3 linked regions of the Homo sapiens genome follow. The protein of the gene in region 2 interacts with the protein of the main gene of each other region in a pairwise test. Each region holds a gene or a part of one and is shown on either strand. Other genes may lie near its edges.

Region 1 (7,440 bases), on a different chromosome or scaffold from region 2:
GAGGCAATCCTCCTCTGAGCACTTAGTCTGATGCACTGTATCTTATGAAGTCTCTTCTCTCTGACTACTGGGAAACTGAGCTATTCCCAGTCTTGTGTGAGCTCTACAAATCACTCCTCCTACTCCTTTTGAGTGGTTCTATCCCAACCTTGCATACTTTACATGCATGTGCTGATCAGTATTCAGCCTTGAGGGAAATCTTTTACAGAGTTCCGGAGTACTCTTTCTGTGCAGTGCCCCTCTGGCACCTTGCTCTGCAAATTCTGCCCACCCTCACCTCCTTGAATTCTGAACTTTGTCTCCTAAATTTAGGCGGACTTCCAGGCTCAGCCTGGATTCTTTCTTCCTGCACAGAGGACTGGAAATTCTCTCTAGGTAGTAAACGGAGGCAATTGTAGGGCTCACCTCATTTGTTTCTCTTTTCTTGAAGATCACTGTGCTGTACTGTCTATTTTCCAATGTCTAACAACTATTATTTTATGTATGTTGTCCACTTTTTTAGTTGTTTAAGATAAAAGGGTAAATCCTGTCTCTTATTCTTTCATGGCCAGAAGCAGAGTCCAGCTTTCAATTTTTTTAATATTTGGGTCAGATTAGTTTTGGGTTTTTAAAAATAACACTCAGATAGAAAGTAGATGGCATCAAAGGTCATAGACTGACAGGATCCTTAGAGACTACCTAACATCCAACCCCTAGCCCCACCACACACACACACATTCATTTGGTGGATTACAGAAGTGAGATCAGAGAGAGGAAGGGGATCTTCCCAAAGTTACATGCAAGTTAGCCACAGAATTAGGGCTAGAATTCAAGTCTTCTGCTCTCTAGTTTTAATCCATCAAGTTATTTTCTGCTGATTTTCTCTTCCAAATTAGTTTATTTGGATAGACATAGCTTTGAAATCCAGAACTTCTGTACTGCCCAAACCCACAGAATGTGCAATATTAGCTCACACCCAGGTGGTACTTGATTTTGTTTCAGTTTTGCAAACACAGCTTCTAGGAGTTGGCCTGAAGTGAATTCCAGAGTAACACATAACACTGAAAAATGTAAAACACCCCCATGGGTAGGCACTCCAGAACAAAACCATATATTTTTCCCCATCGACTTATTATGAACTCGCTAAGCAAAAAGGAGTGTGACTTAGAACTTAGATTGACTGATTTAGTCTTTTTACCACCTATGGGAACCATGTGTCTGTCCTACAAAAAGAAACCATTACCACTGCAAATGCACTTGTCTTTTCACAATTCTAGCAACTCCTAGTCCCCTTTCACCTAGATTCAAAAATTTTATCTGAGCTGGGTCTGGGAGCCCTTCTGTCTTGTCTCTGCACTCTTCCTTGATGTAGCCTAGGAAATGCCCCTGCTTTGGAGTTAGAGTAGGCTTTAACTCTCAGCTCCAAAACTTATTTGCTGTGTGACCTTGGATAAGTTACTTAACCCCTCTGTAAAGACAGGGATGATACTGTCTTACATTGATTCTAAAGCACATTTTTTTTCACATTCTAGCATCTTTGAAATCAAGATGTATCTTGTTAGCCATGGTATGATGGTTAAATGTTCAGCATTTTTCCATTTCCTAGTGGTATGTACTGTGTCATGCTTTCAGAAAATACGGTATTGTTTCCTAACTTGCAGAGCTTCCTCAAGGATTTAATACAAGACAGCAAGCATAAAGTAGGCACTCAAGGACTCTTGCACCGTTTATTACTAGAATGAATGACTAGAACTAATACTTGGCTGAGTCTTGGGTTTCCCAACTTCCCTCATCTAGCTATTGGTACAGCAATTGGGGCAATTAGTCTGACAAGGTGAACAAGCCTGAGGCCGGCACACTACTGACCAGTGTTGCAACGTGTGATTGTCAATGGGACCTTGGGCCCTTTCTTGTTGGTAGCTTCTTGCCCTCTAGTCCTGGTCCATTAATATCATCAGCTTGATCGTGCCTCTGCTGCTACTGAATTATGAAGGTAGGGAAAAGGACTAGGTGACTTCTTAAGCCATCATCCCAAAGTCTCCCTGTTTCATCCCAAAGACTCTCCCCAGAATGTAATGAGGCTTGTCAGTTGAAGGGCTCCTTCAAGGCTATCAGAATCAGAGCCTGCAGGGCTGGAAGCCAAATCCACATTCCCCAAAGCTCCACCACATACTTCCAGTTGGGGAACTGATATTTGGATGTCTTTGAAATCCAAGAATACCTACTCTGCTCACATCTGGAGGGAAAGAGAAGACACCGGAGGATTAACCACCCTCAAACATCTCCCTATACAGAAAAATAGCTGGTATTTATTTCCTAGCACTTCTCTGGCTTTTTTCCTATCTCCGGCTGGCAGGCTTGTCTCAGTTGCAGAGGCCTCATCCCACCCAACCCCTTCCACTCCCTATTATCCCCCTTCGTGCCCAAAAGTGCAGCTGCAGACTCCATGAGCCCATCCCTCTGAGGCACCAATCTTTAACATGTGTCTAGAGGGTCCCCTGCTGGAACCTAGCAGTCTCGGGCATGGTCACAACCACAATAAAAATAGGAAAGGTCAAGAAAGACTGGCCTTTGTCTCTGGCCACTTCTAGCAGCTTCACTGCCTCCCAAGTGATTGTAAAATCATTGAGTCTGAACAAACTACCGCTTGACAGTGCATGCCACCCAGGATTCTGTACCATGGCCAGCACGAAGCTAGGAATTAATAATAACTGTGAGTGATTATCACGGAAACTGTCTCTAGGAAAAATGACCAGGTTTTTACCATTCAACCTTGGGGAGATAAAATCAGGCATAGCAGAAAAAGGACAAATGATCTAAGAGCAAATGCAGGACTCCAGATCCAAAGAGCATTCTTGAGGCCCGATTATACACCTGTCTCATCTCCCTGTCTCAGAGGCAGGTGACGAGAAGGGGAGGAGGTATCTCCATCCAGCCCATCAACCAACTCCAAACCCTGTGCTCATTCTAGACCCTCCCCAACACCTCCTTGCCCTTATTCCCTGTCAATTTGCCTCTCTGTAGGTCTCTGCTTGCCCCGCTCTGTTGGACCTGTCAAGACCCTCTTTGTCTCCTGCCACAGCCTCCCTTCAGCTTTCTCCATCCAACACCAGCCCTGATTTTAGAATATCGCCCTACCTAAAACCCACCAATGAACAAGAATGGCAAATTATTTACCCTTGTGAAGGCTGGGTAATAGGAACATGGAGGATTATTTTATTATTCTCATTACGTTTGTGTATGCTTGAAGTCTTTCATAATAAAACGACTCTCCGACGACCTCCAGGGATCTCAGGGTAAAGTCCGAAGTCTGCAGACTGGCATTCAAGACCCCTCAGGATTTGTCTCTACCCAGTTTAACCAGCTAACCTCCTGGCACTCACCATGCTGCAGCCTGTTTTCCCAGCCTTTGGAACTCAAGTCTCTCTTGCAGCCCTAGTTTTACCCCATGCATCTTCTTTTTACAGAACACATTTCCCCTTGTGCCCTGCCTAGAAAACACCTCCTAATCCCTTGGAAATCTAATGCAAATGATCCCTGGTCTGGGTCACCTTCCCTACCTTCTGGGGGCAGGGAAGAGGGGGCCTCCTCAGTCCTGATATACAACAAATACCCAGTATGTGTTTAGGAGAGACCAGAATGTCTTGGCTAATAGAACGTGTGCAATATTTACTTGAACTTAGGCAAGTAGGGTAATCTTTCTTGGCTTCTGCTTCTGTCTCTATAAAATGAAGATAATAGCGGTACTTATCTCACAAGGCTGGGGTAAAGATTCAGCGGTATTCTCTGTGTAAACAGTTTAACACAGTACCTGGCAGAGAGAGGGGGAGAAAGAGGGAGAGAGGGAGAGATGCTGACTGACTTACAGACAGACATACTTCAATCAAAGAATATAGTGGGTAATTATGTGGCTTGTCTTAAATGAAATGCTTCCAAATCCCACAGGGAAAGCACTGCCGCTTAGCTCTTCCTGGGAGCTAGAGAAATTCGTGGAAAATCGTTGACATTAAAGTCACGATTCCTTTCTCGGGCTCAGGGGCTATTCATACTTTGGAGGGTTTTCAGAAGTCGAGGGGAGTCCCGGGCCCTCCTATTTGGAAGAATCGGAAGGATAGTGCAGGGTCTGTGCCTGGGAGCTGGCCCGAAATCAGGGGGCTAGGAAGGCACGGGGTTTGCACGAAAATCAGCCCCGGTGACAATCCCCAGTCTGTGAGCTCTCGGTGGACTCGGGGCCCCAGGGGTGGGAACCCGGAGTGAGAAAATCTGAGTGGGGTCTGGTGCACGGCCCCCCACCTGCCAGCCCCGCTCCCTGGGCTGCGGCGGCCTCGTGCGTCACGGGCGCAGGCGGGGGCCGAGGGGAGGGCGGCACCGCAAGGTGAGGGCACCGCGCTGCCTTAAGACGCCGCGCGCCCCCGCTGCCTCTCAGAGCTTGCAGCGCGGCGCGCTGGCCGGACGTGCGGGCACAGACGCTGTGCCCCGCTCCTGCCGCGCCCGCAGCGCCCGCTGCCCCGTGCCAGCTCGCAGCCGCCCGAGCCCCGAGAGGCGGCCGGGACGAGCGCGAGGAGCCCCGAAGGACCTGCACGCGGCGCCCGCGACGCCACGTCTGCAGCAGCAACAGGTAAGCAGCCCGGCCCTACTCCGGGCTCCGTGGCCCCCAGCACCCGGCAGGGCCCCGAGCCTGGGAGCCCACGACGCCCCCTCTGAAGCGTCCCGACGGCTGCTGAGCTACCAGGCGCGGTGGCCCGCGGTGCGGCCCCTTCTCGCCTTTCCCTAGCCATCCTCCCGCCCTCGCGTTTTCTCTCTCACTTTTTCTCGTGCGTTCTTTTCCCCCTTCCTCTCCATTCTCTCGTTTTTTCCTCATCCTTTCCCTCTTCCTCTGCTTGTTCTCTTTTCTTATTATTTTTTGCTTTTTCTGTCTGCGTCTCTCCCAGTCTGTCTTGCTCTCTCATTCTCTCTCACTCTCACGCTCCCATTTCTTCTTTTTTCTTTCTTTCTCCCTCTCTGTTGCTCACATTCTCTCTGTCTCTCTGTATGTATCTCATTCTTTCGCTGTCTCTCATTTCCTTTTTGTCTCTCTGCCTCTCAGTCTCTCTCGCCCTGCCTTTCTGACTCTCTCCACCACCCTGCACCCCTGCCTCTTTTGCCTTTCTCCCCAGCTCCTTTCCCACTCCCCTCGGCTGTCACCGACACCAAGCAGATCCGGAGAAAGCAAAGAGGATGCCAAATTGGGAATGGGGATGGGGCTGTGGAGGGTGAGGGTAGGGGAGCTCAATAGGCATCCTCTCTGCATTTTCCAGTCTCCATTGCACTGCTGATAAACTAAGGGTTTTTTAACCAAAGCCCGCGGTGGCCGGGGCGGCAGGTGGTTTCCACGGCAAAATAAAGTCCACAGGGAGACAGAGATCCAAAGAGACAGAGATCCAGCCAGAGAAAAACCAAGGTGAGGGGCCATGGGAAAAAGATGTAGAGAAATAGAGATGCGCACACACTCAAAGATACAAAGCAAGTGTTTAGCCAGAGTCCTGGGGTGACAGGAAAGTGAAGGACAGAGAAACCAACGAGAGAGTGCACACACTAAAGAGATAGCTTGAGAGACAGGTGAGACAAGCAGTAGAGTGTTAGAGATCAATGGAGAGAGAGGCAGAGTAATGCAGAGAGAACTTAGGCAGGGAGAGACAGAAACCACACGGAGAGACACAGAGACAAGAGGGTCCGAGAAAGACAGAGCAAGCGCACACGTGCCAGTGAGAGACAGAAGGAGACACCCAGAGAACCCGAGGGAGACGCAGAAACAAGAGAGTTGGAGAGACACGGAGACGGGCAGAGACACAGCGAACGACATTGAACAGGTGCGCTAGGGACCCACAAAGATGAACTGCTGGGGAAATAGACTGAGAGAGAAATGGAGAGACAAGAGAGCACTAGGGAAAGACGGAGACACACATGAACTAGCGAGCGACACAGTGACAGGCAGAGACACAGAGAGACAGAATGGATCAGAAAGAGACTGAGGGAGAGACGGGCAAGACTGTGAGAAAGATAGGGAGCGAGAGCGCAAGCCCTGCAGAGAAAGTGCGCTAGCGAAAGAGACACACACAGAGAGACTGAGTGACAAACAGAGTGGAAGAGATAAATGAGAGTAACAGGAAAGAGACAGCGTGCACGTGCTATCGAGAGACGGAGAAACAGAGACAGACATAAGTGAGAGACAAGGATGAGAAAGAATCAGGAAACGGTGAGACACATACAGACACACAACCCGAGAGATAAAGAAAAAAAGTGCGCTAGCGAGAGACACTGGAGAAGAGACAGAAACTGACGGTCGTAAACAGACAGAAACAGAGAGCGCACGCGCATGCGCTAGCGCTAGCGACCAAAACTCCCCGGAGCCAGAGACAGTGTGAGAGACAAGCAGAGAAAGCGCACGCACGCACGCGCCAGCAGGAGAAACAGATGAGAGGAAATCAGAGCCCTGGAGAGAGACAGGCAGACAGATCTGGAGAGTCCGGAAAGGAGCCATAGAAGCTGCCCGCACTGGGGATGGAGCCGTGCGGAAACCCGGGGTAGGGGGTCCTGCAGCGTCCTTGCTGGGCGCGGAGGCTTCTCCCCTTGACGGGTGACTAACTCTGCCTGCGTGTTTCTTTTGTCACCAGCATAGGCACTGAGTGCGGTCTGTGCACCCCTTTGCCACCCACCGGTGCCGGCACTGAGCCTGCAACCTGTCTCACGCCCTCTGGCTGTTGCCATGACGTCCACCTGCACCAACAGCACGCGCGAGAGTAACAGCAGCCACACGTGCATGCCCCTCTCCAAAATGCCCATCAGCCTGGCCCACGGCATCATCCGCTCAACCGTGCTGGTTATCTTCCTCGCCGCCTCTTTCGTCGGCAACATAGTGCTGGCGCTAGTGTTGCAGCGCAAGCCGCAGCTGCTGCAGGTGACCAACCGTTTTATCTTTAACCTCCTCGTCACCGACCTGCTGCAGATTTCGCTCGTGGCCCCCTGGGTGGTGGCCACCTCTGTGCCTCTCTTCTGGCCCCTCAACAGCCACTTCTGCACGGCCCTGGTTAGCCTCACCCACCTGTTCGCCTTCGCCAGCGTCAACACCATTGTCGTGGTGTCAGTGGATCGCTACTTGTCCATCATCCACCCTCTCTCCTACCCGTCCAAGATGACCCAGCGCCGCGGTTACCTGCTCCTCTATGGCACCTGGATTGTGGCCATCCTGCAGAGCACTCCTCCACTCTACGGCTGGGGCCAGGCTGCCTTTGATGAGCGCAATGCTCTCTGCTCCATGATCTGGGGGGCCAGCCCCAGCTACACTATTCTCAGCGTGGTGTCCTTCATCGTCATTCCACTGATTGTCATGATTGCCTGCTACTCCGTGGTGTTCTGTGCAGCCCGGAGGCAGCATGCTCTGCTGTACAATGTCAAGAGACACAGCTTGGAAGTGCGAGTCAA
Region 2 (2,650 bases):
GAGGTTGTTGTAGGAAGCGGGGACTGGACGGAGGGAACAGCATGTACAAAGGTTTCAGTGAGCAGGCCTGGTATCACGGGGAACTGAAAGAAGTCGGTGAGGCTGGAAGGCAGAGCCCAGGGGAAGGGAGACAAGCTGGGTGAGGCTGCAGGTGCCACGTCCTGAGTGAGTTGGGGTCTGGGGTAGGAAATTCTGACTTTGTCCCAAGAGCAGTGAGGAACATCAGAATGTGCACGTTTTAGTGAGATCCCTCTGGGTGAAGGGGTCTGTGTGTAAGATGGAGTAGAGGGGCCAGGCAGAGCAAGGGGGAGGCCACTGCCACTGTCCAGAAGATGGGCAATGGTAGCCCAGCCAGTGGAGGGATTTGAGGGAATGGCACTGGGCTCGGGGTGGGGGGCCAGACAGACTGCGATGGGTAAGGGAGGATGTCCTAGTTTCTGTGTGGGAAGCCTACCACTCTCCCTATATCCCCTCTGTACAACCAACAAATGACACAGGCATACAAGCAAAAATAGTGTATTTGAGGATGGATGACCCAAAATTGGGGGGCCCAGGGGTGAGGCCACAGCAGCTGCCTGGAGTTGGCACAGACTACCCCAACTCCCTAGGGGAGCCCAGCAGCATAGAAGCCCCCCTGCTGGGCCTCCTAGCTGCCTCCCCCCCAGGAGGAAGGATTGTGTAACCGCCAAGAATCATCATCATCGTCATTGTAACAAGTTGAGGTCTTCAAAGTTTGCCCAGCAATTTTTGGCATCGTAATTGATATTAATCATAATAATGACTCTGACAAGCACAGGGACTGTGCCAGGCTTGGACCCACCATCCAGTGGTGTGCAGAGTCTGTGGCAGGGGTGAGGCAGGCAGGGATGGAACGCAGGTCTCCCTGGGAGTCCCCATTCCAATCTCCAAGGCAGCCCTTCCAGAAGGCTCCCCTCCCTGCCATGGCCCCCAGTAGAGGTCACTGCCAGTTCTCCACTTTTTTTTTTTTTTAATTGAGACAGCGTCTCGCTCTGTCTCCCAGGCTGGAGTGCAGTAGCATGCGATCTTGGCTTACTGCAGCCTCGATCTCCAGGGCTCAAGTGATCCTCCCACCTTAGCCTCCCATGTAGCTGGGACTATAGGCACGCGCCACCATGCCCAGCTAATTTTTCTATTTTTAGTAGAGATGAGGTTTTGCCATGTTAGCCAGGCTGGTCTCGAACTCCTGGCCTCAGGTGATCCACCCACCTCGGACTCTGGAAGTGCTGGGATTATAGGCGTGAGCCACCATGCCCAGCCCTGTTCTCCATTCCTTCTATGGCCACAGCGGAGGCTGGATTCAGGCCAGGGCCATCCCAGGTGGCTCCTGAGATCCCCCAGGTCTCAAAGACCCTTGCTGGGCTGGTCCCTCCGCCACAGCCCCCGACGGGCAGCCCAGGAGGCCACGAACTCGCAGTTGTGGTAAAGGAACATTCCTGAAAGAGTGAGTGCGATGCCCACGTAGCTGAGGGCACTGAGGCGGCTGCCAAACAACAGCCGGGACAGGATGAGGTTGCCCACCACGGTGAGGTTGCCCAGGACGTGGACGGTGAGGGCAGAGGTGAGGGCCAGCAGGGAGAAGCTGGCCAGGTTATAGAGAACAGACAGGAGGCAGCTGAGCAGGATGCAGGCCCAGAGGCGAGAGTCGCCAGCAGTGGGCGGTGGGGCAACGCCAGCCTCCAGCACCAGGGCTGCACCCGCCAGCAGGCAGAAGCTGGGCAGCGAGGTGGCGTAAAGCAGGGTCACCGCGTCCAGCCTCTCCTCCTGCAGCAGGGCACCTGCAACAGGACAACCGCCATGAGCACCCAGAAGGACACAACCCCCTCCAGCCACCCCAGTATGACCCCTATGGCCGATCCTCCAAGAAGCCTACCCGGACCCCTCGGGCAGGGCTAGTGGCTCCTGATCTGAAACATGACAGTCAAGAGTTGGAGTCAGACCACCTGGGTTTGTGACCTGTGTCCACCCCTGAGTAGCTGTGACCTGGGCTCATGAGAGGCACTTAACCTCCGTAAGCCTGAGTTTCCTCACCTGGAGAGTTGGGTAATAATAAAACCTAATCACGGGTTGTTGTAAACATTTTAAAAGACGGCATACATAAAGCCCTTAAATGGGAAATGCTCAGTAAATATAAAAAACTAAACTAAAATAAATAAGTCTGTTATCAGCCACTTCAAACTGCCTCCCACGAGCTGAAACAATGATATGCTTGGGATATCTAAATGATCAATAAGCATGAAGACTAAGTGGCTCAAAAAACATTACAAAGGCTGGGTGTGGTGGCTCATGCCTGTAATCCCAGCACTTTGGGAGGGCGGATCGCTTGAGCCCAGGAGTTTGAGACCTGCCCGGGCAACGTGATAAAACCCTGCCTCTACACAATACAAATATTAGCTGGGAGTGGTGGCACGTGCCTTTAGTCCCAGCTACTCAGGAGGCTGAGGCAGGAGGATCTTGAGCTCAGGAGGTGGAGGTTGCAGTGAGCCAAAATTGCACCACTGCACTCCAGCCTGGGCAACAGAGCGAGACCCTGTCTTAAAAAAAAAAAAAAAAAAATCGGTCAGGTACAGTGGCTTATGCCTGTAATCCCAGCACTTTGAGAGGCTGAGGCAGGAGGATCACTTGAGCCCAG
Region 3 (7,037 bases), on a different chromosome or scaffold from region 2:
CCTCATTAAGTCCTCACCACAGCCTAGGAGGGGGCTGCTATCACTAACCACATTTGCAAGGTGAGAAACTGAAGCTCACACAAGCTTAAGACTTATCCAAGGGGCCGGGCATGGTGGCTCATACCTGTAAGCTTGGCACTTTGGGAGGCCCAGGCAGGAGGATAGCTTGAGCTCAGCACTTCAAGACCAGTCTAGGAAACATAGTGAGACCCTATCTCTACAAAAAAAAAAAAAAAAAAATTAAAAATTAGCCAGGCATGGTGGCACATGCCTGTGGTCCCAGCTACTCAGGGGGCTGAGGTGGAAGGATTGTTTAAGCCTGGGAGATTGAGGCTGCAGTGAGCTATTATTGCCTGGGTAACTGAGCAAGATACTGTTTCAAAAAAAAAAAAAAGAAGGAGAGAGACTTGTCCACAGTCCCATAACTGGTGGTAATGGCAAAGCTGAGACTCAAGTCCAGGTCAATCTGGATCCAGAACCAAGCCATATTGTGGTGGGAATCAAAATAGGAGAACGGGAGTGGAAATGCCTCTAGGTATGGAGATGCAGGGCAGGCTCGGGGACTCATGATCAGGGTTGTCTTTACTGTGTCGCTCGCCAGGCTGCGTTTCAGATGCCATCACATGGACAACCCGAGAACCTGCGCTGGGGAGGAAATTGGAGGGATATCATATGAATATGGCCGGCTTCTCTCCTCCCACCCCAAACTGAGCAGTCCAATCCAGTCTTGTGAGGTGTCTACTCTGTGCCAAGACCCTGAGGCTCTAGCCCTTGGCCCAGGTGACTTCCTGTTTCCATGATGATCTCTGACAGACCTTCCCTGACTGTGCTTAGGCATTATCTTATGTAATCCTCACCTCGGTCCTGTAAAGGCAATTCTCTTTCTCTCCCCAAGCTATAAATGAGGACACTGAAGTCTCGGGAGAGGGCAGAGTGGGAACCCACGCACAGCCAAGGCTCTCGGTCCCCAGCTATGCTGCAGGGACCACCAGAAGAGTAAGATCAGGTCTCAGCCTTCTTCCAGCAGAACCCAGAACAGTGTAAAACTGTTCTCTTTTCCCTCCATCTCCTGGGGAGAGAAAGGATGTACTCAGTCCTCACGCCATGCAGCAAAGACCTCAAATGCCAAGGAGAGAAAATGACAGACAAGGCCAGATTAATGGGGGAGGAACTGCATAGTGGAGTTAGGGCCAAGCAGGGAGGGAAGGATTCCCCAGCAGGCGAGGGAGTGAAGGCTGCTGGGGCCCCATCCAGTCGGGGAGGATGTGGGTGAGCCCATGAGCAGAGGGGACTTCGTGGTTCGGTGTCCGGTGAGCTTCACGGCTTCTCCTCCCCTCCCCCACCTGCTTCCACTGCCCAGAGAGGAGGTCTCTGATCTCCTGCTCATACAGTGAGTCAAAGGCAGCTTTTCCCACTCCCTCACCCCCACCACCCCACCTGTCTCTCAGAGGCTCCCTTGCCTCCCTAGAGGTTGAGGCAACCCCTAAGTTCCTCTTTGAGAGCCACAGCTGCGTTCACAGTGTTGCCTCAGCCCAAATTCATTGAGTTCGTCCTCTGTGTCTCTCCCTGGGTCTGTTTGGGTCCTGGAAAATCTGATGGAGCTGGAAGCTGGGGAATAGAGCCCACTGAGAGCAAGGAAGGAGCCAGAGGGTGCTTCACTGACCTTCTGTAGCCCTCCCTCCCTTCCAATGGGCCCATTTGACAGATGAAGCCACTAAGGCTGAGACACAACAGGCAGAGACAGGAGTCAAACCCAAGTCTGTCTTCCCACTACTTTCTACCAGCTTTTCCCACTAGGGAGGGAGATGTTCCAGAAGGTTCACATCATTAGAAGGTCTTGATGCCTGTTTCCATTTTTTTAAAAATTAGTGAATAATTATTGTAATAGTTAAAAGATTTTTTCTCAATGTGAGATCTTCCTAGGATAAGTGGAAGAATCAAATCTGGCAGGTATAGCCAGGCATCGCTTGAGCCCAGGAATTCAAGGCTGCAGTGAGCCGAGATTGTGCTACTGCACTCTAGCCTGGGTGACAGAGCAAGATCCCTATCTCAAAAATAAAATAAATATTTAAAAAGCGATAGTTGGCCAGGCACGGTGGCTCATGCCTGTAATCCCAGCACTTTGGGAGGCCCAGGTGGGCAGATCATGAGGTCAGGATATCGAGACCATGCTGGCCAACATGGTGAAACCCCGTCTCTACTAAAAATACAAAAATTAGCCGGGCATAGTGGCATGTGCCTGTAATCCCAGCTACTCAGGAGGCTGAGGCAGGAGAATTGCTTGAACCAGAGAGCCGGAGGTTGCAGTGAGCCAAGATCACGCCACTGCAGCCTGGTAACAGAGGGAGACTCCATCTCAAAAAAAAAAAAAAAAAAAAAAAGCAGTAGTTAGTGGTGATAGAACAAACTAGCTCATGACTCACAACCAGGCAATTAATCATTCAGCTACAGCTTTGGCTGATATATGGCTTTACATCGTTTTTGCTCTTAATCTGATATCATTTAATTTATACCCTTACTGAGCCAATGATTAAAGACAGCATAAGAAACTGATATCAAAAATACAAGGAAGCTGGGTACGGTAGCTCACGCCTGTAATCTCAGAACTTTGGGAGGCTGAGGTGGGTGGATCACTTGAGGCCAGGAGTTTGAGACCAGCCTGGCCAACATGGTGAAACCTCATCTCTACTTAAAAAATACAAAAATTAGCCAGGTGTGGTGGCACACGCCTGTAATCCCAGCTACTTGGGAGTCTGAGGCTGGAGAACTGCTTGAACCCGGGCGGCAGAGGTTGCAGTGAGCCGAGATCACGCCACTGCACTTCAGCCCGGGCAACAAAGCAAGACTCCACCTCAAAAAAAAGAAAAGAAAATACAAGGAAATGATGGTGTTAACTCCTCTGCAGATTTGCTTCAAGATTCTTCTTTTTTCTCTTGTTTTTTTTTTTTTTTTTTGAGACAAGGTCTCCCTCTGTCACCAGGCTGGAGCATAGTGGCGCGATCTCGGCTCACTGCAACCTCCACGTCCCAACCTCCACCTCCCAGGTTCAAGCGATTATCCTGCCTCAGCCTCCCATGTAGCTGGGATTACAGGTGCATGCCACACGCCCGGCTAATTTTTTTGTATTTTTAGTAGAGATAGGGTTTCACCATGTTGGCCAGGCTGGTCCCGAATTCCTGACCTCAGGTGATCCGCCCACCTTGCTCTCCTAAAGTGCTGGGATTACAGGAGTGTGCCACCATGCCCGGCCTGCTTCAAGATTCATAAATTACATTTATCTGATCAACTTTCTTATATGGCATATTAGAGAAATCCTACTACTTCACAACATTTCAAAGGTTGGTAAGAAGAGAGAAAGATGTATTCTGTCTTTTCCTGTACTGGGTATAAAAGAGATCTACACCTGCAAGGCATATACAGAGAGGCATGCAAATAGGGGCCTGAGACATATTTTTTCTTTTTTTTTTTTTTGACACAGAGTCTCACTTTGTCACCCAGGCTGGAGTGCAGTGGTGCAATCATGGCTCACTGCAGCCTTGACCTCCTAGATTCAAGTCATCCTCTCATCTGAGTCTGTCAAGTAGCTGAGACTACAGGCACATGCCACCACTCCCAGCTAAATGAAACCTATTTTATCTTATCATATAGCAAACATAAAATTACTTTTAAGAAGTATGAATTGGCCGGGTGCGGTGGCTCACGCCTGTAATCCCAGCACTTTGGGAAGTGCTGAAGCTCAAGGTGGATCACTTGAGCTCAGGAGTTCAAGACCAACGTGGGCAACGTGGCAAAACTCCATCTCTAAAAAAAAAAAAAGAAAGAAAAAAAAGAAAGATAGGAAAACAAAAAAAAAAAGTTAGAGAAAAATTTTAAACAATACACTTATTGTAAATAGTACATTTTATTTAAAATCACTTCCTTTTTCATGGGCCATAGAAAATTATGAAATGGCTCGAGTAGTTTCCACTGGGGTTTGTAAAATTAAGTTTTCTATGTCCCATACATACTGTTTAATCCTCACAACAGTCCTGAGTGGAGGTATTTTCATTATTCCCATTTTACAGACAAGGACAGTGGGGCTCAAGGAGACGACGTAATTTGCACGAGAGAACACAGCTTTAATAAGGGGCAGGAGGTGGGTACAGTGGTGTGGGCCTGGAGTCCCACTGCTAGAGAGTCTGAGGGGGGAAGACAGCTTAAGCCTAGTTCTCCAAAAAACATCAGAGTGGGAGCAGAATCAGAATCACAACTATGACTCAGGCTGCCTCTGTCTACCTATTTCCTCCTTATTCTCAGTTGGTTCCGAGGGTAAGTTCAGGACCAACTGAGAATCTGTGTTCAGAACCAACTGAGAATCTCTTTTACACAGAACAGGAACAGGAACTAGAAATCCAGGCCACCTTGCAAGTTTGGCTCCCGAGGCCTGAGATTGGCTTGATAGAGTGTCCCGTGATCCCGCTAGATCCCAAATCCCAGGCCAGAGATTGCAACATGTGTTCTTTGTTATGGTCCCAGGGACCAAAAGCCAACAGATGCACAAATGCACCTTAATTAATTCTATTAGAGAGAGGTAGAAGGAACTTACAGGAGGATCAGCTCCCCAGATGTCTGGCCTATCCCTGGCTGTTCCTCGTCTCTCCGTGGCCTGAGTCCTCATGCCAGGTTTAATTCATCCATCAGCCTCTGCCCAGCTTGTCCCTTTGTCCCCTCCAGCCCCTTTGCCACCACTCACAGATCTTATCAGCCCCATGAGTCAAGCCTCTCTGCTGATGCTGGTTTCCCCAACTACAGAACAGGAGTGATACTAGTCCCCCATCATGGATTTGTTGTGTAGAATATATAAATTAATATATAAATATATATAATATATAAAGTGCAAAGATGGCTGGGCGCGGTGGCTCATGCCTGTAATCCCAGAACTTTGGGAGGCCAAGGCAGGTGGATCACCTGAGGTCAGGAGTTTGAGACAAGCCTGGCCAACATGGTGAAACCCCATCTCTACTAAAAATACAAAAGCTAGCTGGCGTGGTGTCGGGTACCTGTAATCCCAGCTACTTGGGAAGCTGAGGCAAGAGAATCGATTGAACCCGGGAGGCGGAGGTTGCAGTGAGCCGAGATGCACTACACTCCAGCCTGGGCAACAGGGCCAGACTCATCTCAAAAAAAAAAAAAGAAAGAAAAGAAAAGAAAAGTTAAGTGCAGAGAATAGTGCCTGACACACGGTATACAGTAGGTGCAATTTCAGTATTAGTTGCTACTATTGTCATAATCACCAGAGTGTTTCAAGAGCTGAGCCTCCATGGCTCTCCACATCGCTTCACAAACTCCCCTGTTCTGGGAACCAGCCTGAATTGCAACCTCAACCCCCGACTGATGCAACCCTATAAGCAAACCAGAATCATGGCTGGGGTAGGGGCTCTACCCTTTGGGATCTGGCCAAACCAGGAAGAGGTAGAGTGGCCTGGAGGCAAACCACAGGTGATTCAGAATGTTCACCACGTGGTTAACCCTGTCTTACTCCTGCTTTAGAGAGAAGCCACCATGAAAAGTCCTCATCATCAGGGGACAGACCTCTCTGTTCCCTGGTTATAATGCCTTACTTTGTATGAAAGTTTCCTTTCCTACAGAGAGCACTTCATGGACAGAATGGGTGACTGGCCACTTCCAGGTGTGATTTTAACAATGCTCCTCCCACCCCCAGACAAATGCATACTTCCCGATGGCTGACAGATTTCACAGTAACAGGCTACCCTCAGGGTGAAAGAGATCCACACATGCTTATCAGTCATTTATGCTGTAATATCACAGAGCATCAAATAATTTTCTGTAGTAGACTTTCTTTGAAAGAGGGAGATAGGCCTTTTAGTTCTTGTTATAAAAATGAAGATTAGCTAGGTGCAGTGGCTCACACTTGTAATCCCAGCACTTGGAAGCAGCACCAGGCCGATCACCTGAGGTCAGGAGTTCGAGACCAGCCTGGCCAACATGGTGAAGCCTTGTCTCTAATAAAAATACAAAAAAATTGGCTGGGCATGGTGGCAGGCGCCTGTAATCCCAAGCTACTCGGGAGGCTGAGCCGGAAGAATCACTTGAACCCGGGAAGCAGAGGTTGTAGTGAGCCGAGATCGCACCACTGCACTCCAGCCTGGGTGACAGAGCGAGACTCCAAAAAAAAAAAAAAAAACAATGAAACGAACAAAAAAACCAGAGTTCTGAGTGACATCACCTGGATCACAAAGGAGCTCCCTAGTGGGGCAAAGCTAAGATTCCTGTCTTCAGGCAGTGTGAACTCTGGAATCTGGTAAAGCAGAAAATCGGGAGCCCAAATGCAATTTTTTAACATTTCAAAGGGCCCCCCAGAAAGATTAGAGAGAAGTCCCCGGGAGAAAGCCGCAGGAGCCAGCTGAGCAACTAGGAGGCAGGCTCCTGTGACAGTTGCAGACCTGGGCACAGGTTTGGGTTCACATCGGGCTCTGCCCTTTTGTGCAACCTCAGACAAGTCACTGCATCTTTGCGCCTCCGTCTCCTTGTCTGCAAAACAGAGATGATGATAATAGGACCACCCTTCCTGACTTACTGTGAGGATTAATTGCATTTTACACAACTAGCTATTGTTAAAGTGAAGCTCCCCACAATCCCATTTTCACCCTTGCATTTATGGCCTGGCAGGTTAGGTTCTGCAAGGCTGTTTCACAGATACTATGAGGAGCACTTTTGATATGTTAACCTAGGCATGCCCTTCTTACTGACGCACGTTAAAAAGAAATGCTTTTTTTTTTTTTTTTGACAAAGCCTGGGGTCTCACTCTGTCACCCAGGCTGGAGTGCAGTGGCACATCACGGCTAGCTGTAGCTTCAACCACCTGGGCTCAAGTGGTCCTCCCACCTCAGCCTCCCAAGTGCCTGGGACCACAGGCATGAACCACTACCCCTGGCTAATTTTTTTTTATTTGTAGAGGCGGGGTCTTCCTATGTTGCCCAGGCTTGTCTTGAACTCCTGGGCCCAACCGCTCCTCCCACCTCAGCCTCCCAAATTGC

Evidence for each region. The genes of interacting proteins can lie anywhere in the genome.
Region 1: the proteins of SLC35E4 (region 2) and GPR101 interact in binary tests that used the Homo sapiens proteins (3 or more experiments, as listed by UniProt).
Region 3: the proteins of SLC35E4 (region 2) and CNR2 interact in binary tests that used the Homo sapiens proteins (3 or more experiments, as listed by UniProt).

What each region holds. Positions count from the first base shown.
Region 1 is NC_000023.11:137,030,959-137,038,398, reverse strand, and holds the start of GPR101 (probable G-protein coupled receptor 101), read left to right. Parts: upstream 1-4,403; 5' UTR 4,404-4,597; intron 4,598-6,632; 5' UTR 6,633-6,724; coding exon 6,725-7,440. UniProt on the Homo sapiens protein: Orphan receptor.
Region 2 is NC_000022.11:30,645,744-30,648,393, reverse strand, and holds the end of SLC35E4 (solute carrier family 35 member E4), read right to left. Parts: intron 1,797-2,650; coding exon 1,363-1,796; 3' UTR 501-1,362; downstream 1-500. UniProt on the Homo sapiens protein: Putative transporter.
Region 3 is NC_000001.11:23,903,326-23,910,362, reverse strand, and holds part of CNR2 (cannabinoid receptor 2), read left to right. Parts: intron 1-7,037. UniProt on the Homo sapiens protein: Heterotrimeric G protein-coupled receptor for endocannabinoid 2-arachidonoylglycerol mediating inhibition of adenylate cyclase. May function in inflammatory response, nociceptive transmission and bone homeostasis.